2 separate regions of the Homo sapiens genome follow, and region 2 is linked to region 1. A link means that fine-mapping ties the variant in region 1 to the expression of a gene that starts in the linked region. Tissue or cell type: whole blood. Region 1 holds a variant in brackets; the other region holds the start of a gene. All regions are shown on one strand. Distances are from middle to middle.

Region 1 (3,032 bases):
ATTCATCCACGTATTATTTTGTTATCTACAATTCTCCATGTGTAATTTGTCTTTTCCTCCACAAACAGATTGTCGATCCTTCAAAATAAGGTCTGTAATGTCTGTATTTTATATCTCATACACAATAGATGCATAACAAAATATTCGATTACTAATGTTTAAATAATAAAAATATCTAGGAATGTCCAGCTCTGACCTGCTACGTTTAGGTCCCAGGCCCAAGAAGAGGGAGCCTACAGTAAAAGATGTGGAGTCTATTGCTGAACTCGACCTTGACCTTCATCCACACTCTCCCCACTGGGCTCAGCTTCACCTTTCAGGCCTCACACACCTGTAGGTGGGGCCAGGTCTGAGGTTCCCTGACATATTTATCTCTCTGGTTCCACAACTATCATTTTATCCCCTTCTCATAAGCTTCATACCCAGTTCTAATTCCAGCCCCGGGAGTCAGGCTCTGGACAAGAAGTAATCTTGAAAGGTATGAAAACAAACAAATCTCTATATAAAGCCACAGTAAAAAGGTGATATGATTGGGTATGTAAACCATTCTTCTACTAGGATTATATTTAAGAGAAATGCAGCACATTTTCACACAACAAATATCTATGAAATCAAAGAACATAATCCCCAAATTATTAGTTTAGCAGAATGTTTAAATAAATGGAATGTTTAGCCTGCCAACTTCTCATACAAGTAGAATAATTATTCCACAAAAACGTCACACTCTAAAGCCTAGGATTTGCTGGTGTGCTCTTGCAAATACGTTTGCACCTAAGAAAATTCCAAGTATCGGAGCTTCAAAGATGAGAAACACTGAAGTGTCCAATCAATTTCTTTGACCCACCCAAGGTGTTACAATCTATTCTTGGTAGTTATGTTCTACTGAACATAATGGAAACACTGAATTAGGGAACACTGAACCATGGATCCCAGGAGAAATACAGTGTTGGGTTCCTGCAAACGTCGATCACAACATTTCTATCAATCAAGACATAACCTTGCTTTATGTGTTTGTTTAAATAAACCTTATTTAATATATTATTGATTCATTACCATTGAACTCAGAACTAAAGCACCTTAACTCCTACCTGAATAAAGCTTATCTAACACACGTATTTTCTCTGTAAGGCACTTCACAGCCTTCTGCTTAGGAATACTGGACACTACTTCAATACCAAGCTTCGGAGGAGGGAGGCATTTTAAACAGCAAAATCACTAGGAAATAGCACAAAAATGTGGAAAATATGGCACTAAGCAGACTGCAAATTTAAAAACACTTATTTACAAGAGCTGAAACAAGAAGACAGAGCGTTACCTTATTCAACATCATCTGGGAACATCCATGTCGGATAATTCAAATCCTTCATCACTCTACGCTTATCCACAAACGACTGCAAAAGCACCATAAGTACAGATTTGGGGGTTCTCAGGGATAAAGATTCTAGTGGGATGGCAGGAAAAACAACATTCTAATAGAGCTTTCTAAAAATGAAATGGGCC[G/T]ACCCAGGAGAGGACTTTCCAGTCTTTGGCGTGGTTGTTTGTAATTCAGATCTGCCACTCCCAAATCAAATACACATCAGAAAATCTGGGTGGGAGGCTTGTTAAAAATACTCCAGTGTTTCTGACTTAGTAGATCTAGATGGGGCTCAGAATCTGTATTTTTATCAACAAATTTTTCATCACTCTACGCATGTCCACAAATGACTGCAAAGGCACCATGAGTACTGATTTGGGGGTTCTCAGGGATAAAGATTCTAGTGGGATGGCAGGAAAAACAACATTCTAATAGAGCTTTCTAAAAATGCAATGGGCCACCCCAGGAGAGGACTTCCCAATCTTTGGCGTGGTTGCAAAAAGGAAATTTTTGCAAATAGGCAATTTCACAAATACAGAATTTGTCATAATAAGCACAGACTTTATCTCCATCTCAAATGTCCTCCTCAATAGCCCAATTTGATACTTACCTTGCACATCCTCTGACATCTCTCAATTTTCTAACCATTGATCTTGTTACTTACTCATCAACACCCACCCACCCCCCTTGGCTCCAATGCACATTTTCATCCTTCCTAATTATAGAAGTGCTATGCTCAAGTTTGTACATTTCATTGTATGTAAACTTCATCTCAGTATTTATGTGACAAAATAAGTATAGTAAAATGTTAATAAGAGAATCTAGGTGGTGGGTATATGGGTGTTCACCGTAAAATTTTTTCAATTTTTTGTGTGTTTGAAAACATTCCTAATAAAATGGGAAAAGAGAAAGGAATCACATGTTCCAAAAACATTCTAAAAATATATTTAATGAAATGAAATTGAATCTTTCCCCAATCTTCCACCCAATGCCTCACTTCCCTTCATAATGTCTTCATCAGGTGGTCATATGGACAAGTGATTTCCAAATGCTGGTTCATGGACCAGCTGCCTCAGAATAACCCAGGTGCTGATAAAAATACAGGTTCTGAGCCACATCCAGACCTACTAAGTCAGAAACACTGGAGTGTTTTTAACAAGCCCCCCCACCCAGATTTTCTGATGTGTACCTGGTTTGGGAGTGACAGATCTGAATTACATACAACCACACCAAAGATTGGAAAGTCCTCTCCTGGGACAGCCCATTTAATTTTTAGAAAGCTCTATTCGAATATTGTTTTTCCTCCCATCCAACTGGAATCTGCATCCTTGAGGTCTTCCACTCATCTATTCTTTTTATTTTTGAGGCCATAGACTGAATCCCTCTTCCTCTTTATAATAATCACAGTTCTCATTATTATTATGTTTTTGTAGAGATGGGGTCTCACTACATTGCCCAGGCTGATCTCAAACTCCTGGACTCAAAAAATCCTCTGGCCTCAGCCTCCCAAAGTGCTGGGATTACAGGCATGAGCCCCCACACCCAGTCCACAGCTCTCATGATCAGTGCTGATTACATCGTATGACGGTACACTCTGTGCTACGCTCTGTGCACCCTCTCACGGTAGCCTTGTAGATGTCATGCCCCACCCCATCTTCCTACCCTTCCCAATACCAAG
Region 2 (2,766 bases), 100 kb after region 1:
TTAATTAAAAGGATTAAATATTTGCGTCTGAACCAGGGCTGGCATATTATAGGCACTCAATAGATTCAATAATTCTTAGTTTTCTTTCCCCATTAACATAACCCTTATATCTTTCTAGTTATAATTAAGAATGAATGGCCAGGCACAGTAGCTCACACCTGTAATCCCAGCAGTTTGGGAGGCTGAGGTGGGAGGATTGCTTGAGGCTGGGGGTTTAAGACCAGCTTGGACAACATAGTGAGACACCAACTGTACCAAAAAAAAAAATGAAAAAATAAAGATAGCATTGAGTCTCTTCAATTAATTATGAATATTAAGCATATCCTGCCATTTACTTCCTTGCAGATCTAGCAGAAAATCTGAAAATAAAGCCAAGTTGCAGACAGAAGACAAAGATAAATTCACATGCAGACAAATTCAAACTCCTGACTACATTAATGTCTCTCATTGGTGGCCAAATTTCAGTCTAATCTTTGCTAATGTTTTTCACCACCCACAAATAAGAGAGACTGAGTGTGTCCCTTGACATTTGGAGATCAGGAAGTCCACCTTAAAAAGACAAGAGGCCAAAATGTTGGGAAAATCCTCTGGTGATAAAGGGAAAGCAAAAATTGTTTAAAAACAGAACAAAATATAAGTAAATAATTCAGGTTGCTTAAGTACTGTTTTCGTTTACAGAAACAGCAACTTCAAATGAGACGATATAAACCTGTATGATTTTTCTTATAATTTGCCTCCTGCAAATAAGCTTAAGTCTTTGTCTACCTTAGTCTTCTCTTTCCTAGCTACATATCACAACATACTTCCTTACTGCCTTCCTTCCGTCTTTTCTTCAACGCTTCTGTAAATTTTGATTTCAAAAGCAACGGCACAATTGCGTTCTTCTAGCCCTAGTTACGCAGTAATATAACGACAGGTGGAAACCTGCAGGTTGCCACGTTCATTGCAAAGTGTCCACAGTAAAGATAAAGGAGAAATTCCCCCGGCAATGAAAACGAGAATGAGATAAATTACCAAATTACATTAAAAGCGTGCTCTTATGTTAGAGATTTAAAGTTCCTCTCAGAAATCGCGGAGGATTTTGACCTGAAGCAAAAGTGAACTTCTTCCGGGTGGTAGAAAAGTAAACTGTCAACTATTTACTTTGGGGGGGTGGCGGGGGGAGGGTGCTGGGAAGGAATTGAGGCGAAAAGCCTCTGCAGGTGACGGTACAGGCCAATACCAGGAGGTCAAGTCGCCGGTGTCCCTTCGGCCCTTAAGTCCAGGGAAACGCACGGCGAGGGACGAGGGGCGATTCCCGCCTTTCTCCAGCCCTTTCTCCGCCCACAAATGACGGCGGTGGCGAAGATCCGGGCCCGCCGCGCGAGGCACTCTGGGAGCGGAAGAAGGAGGCCGCGCGAGGGCTGACGAACCGGAAGAAGAGGAACTGGGCCTGAAAGGGTACCGGTGACCGCTACTGCTGCCGGTGTTTGCGTGTGGCAGGGAGCCAGGCCTGGCGAGCGGGGTGTGTCGCGATGCCGGAGCTGGCAGTGCAGAAGGTGGTGGTCCACCCCCTGGTGCTGCTCAGTGTGGTGGATCATTTCAACCGGTGAGCGAGCGCCCTATAGCTGGGCCGGCGGCGCAGCCGCTGCTGAGTCACGGGCACGCTGGAGATGGCGCGGCGGCCGCGGACGAGCTGGGGACGCAGATAGGGCGGCTGGTGACCCTTACTTGTTCACGAGTCCAGACCAGCGTCGGCTCACGATGCCGGAGTCATCCAGCCTCCCGCCCCTGCCCCAGCCGCCGCCACTTCGGGGCCTTGGCTGCCTGTTCCGTTTAGCCTGTTTGTTTTACAGAGTTCCCTTTCCGAGTTCGTTTTGCCGAAGTTCGTTTTACCGAAATCTGGATGATGCTGGGGGTCGGGAGATGCGGCTAGCTTTAGTTGGCCCTGACCCCCGCCCCCAAGCTCGTGTCTGTCACTTCGTTTTGAAGTTCGTTTTGCCGAAATCTGGATAAAGCCAGGGTGGGGCGGAGGCGGGCTAGCTTCATTTGGCTCTGACCCCCGACCCCAGGGTCGTATCTTCATTTGACTCAGTTGATTTCACTGAAATGTGAATAATGCAAAGTGACTGATGTCTGGATGATGCTTGGGTGGGGCGGAGTGGGCTAGCTCCATTTAGCCCCGCCCCAAGGCTATGTTTATCTTCGTTTGACCGAATTGGTTTCACCGAAATATGGATGATGCTGGAGTGGGGTGCAGGGTGGCTACCTTCATTTGGCCCTGACCCCGGCCCCAGGGTCGTATTTATGTTTATCCTCGTTTAACCAAGTTGATTTCACCGAAATGTGAATGATGCAAAGTGAATGATGCCTGGATGATGCCGGAGTGGGGCTAAGGGGGCTAGCTTCAATTTGGCCCTGACCCCCGCCCCCAGGGTCGTATCTATGTTTGTCTTCATTTGACCGAGTTCCTGTTATCGAAATCTGGATGATGCTCAGCACCCCGAAGGGCTTCCTGGATCAGCTGTGGTTTTAACCCATTAACATTTTTAAATGGGAATCTGATTAGACTCCGTCTCAAAAAAAAAAATGTATATATAGATGAGGTTTCAGTTTTTATTTAAAACACGAGGCCGAGCATGGTGGCTCACGCCTGTAATCCCAGCATTTTGGGAGGCTGAGACGGGAGGATCGCTTGAGCCCAGGAGTTCGAAGCTGTCGTGAGCTGAGATCATGCCACTGCACTCCAGCCTGGGTGAGAGTGAGACCCTGTCTCCAAAAAAAAAA

Evidence for each region. PIP is the estimated chance that this variant, and not a neighbour inherited with it, causes the effect. A credible set is the group of variants that fine-mapping cannot tell apart.
Region 2: PSMD7 starts here. The variant in region 1 is the best candidate, but not a certain one, in a credible set for the expression of PSMD7 in whole blood (TOPMed, PIP 0.84).

What each region holds. Positions count from the first base shown.
Region 1 is chr16:74,192,813-74,195,844 of GRCh38, forward strand. The region is part of intron 3 of PSMD7-DT (PSMD7 divergent transcript); the gene reads right to left. Among named protein-coding and RNA genes, the nearest start is that of PSMD7-DT, 21 kb to the right of the region's middle. The variant G/T (reference allele first, on the strand shown) is at 1,501.
Region 2 is chr16:74,295,401-74,298,166 of GRCh38, forward strand. It overlaps PSMD7 (proteasome 26S subunit, non-ATPase 7), which reads left to right and starts at 1,414. Exons shown (of 7, transcript NM_002811.5): 1 at 1,414-1,588. The coding sequence starts at 1,515. RefSeq lists enhancers at 647-1,538, 1,329-1,638, 1,539-2,428.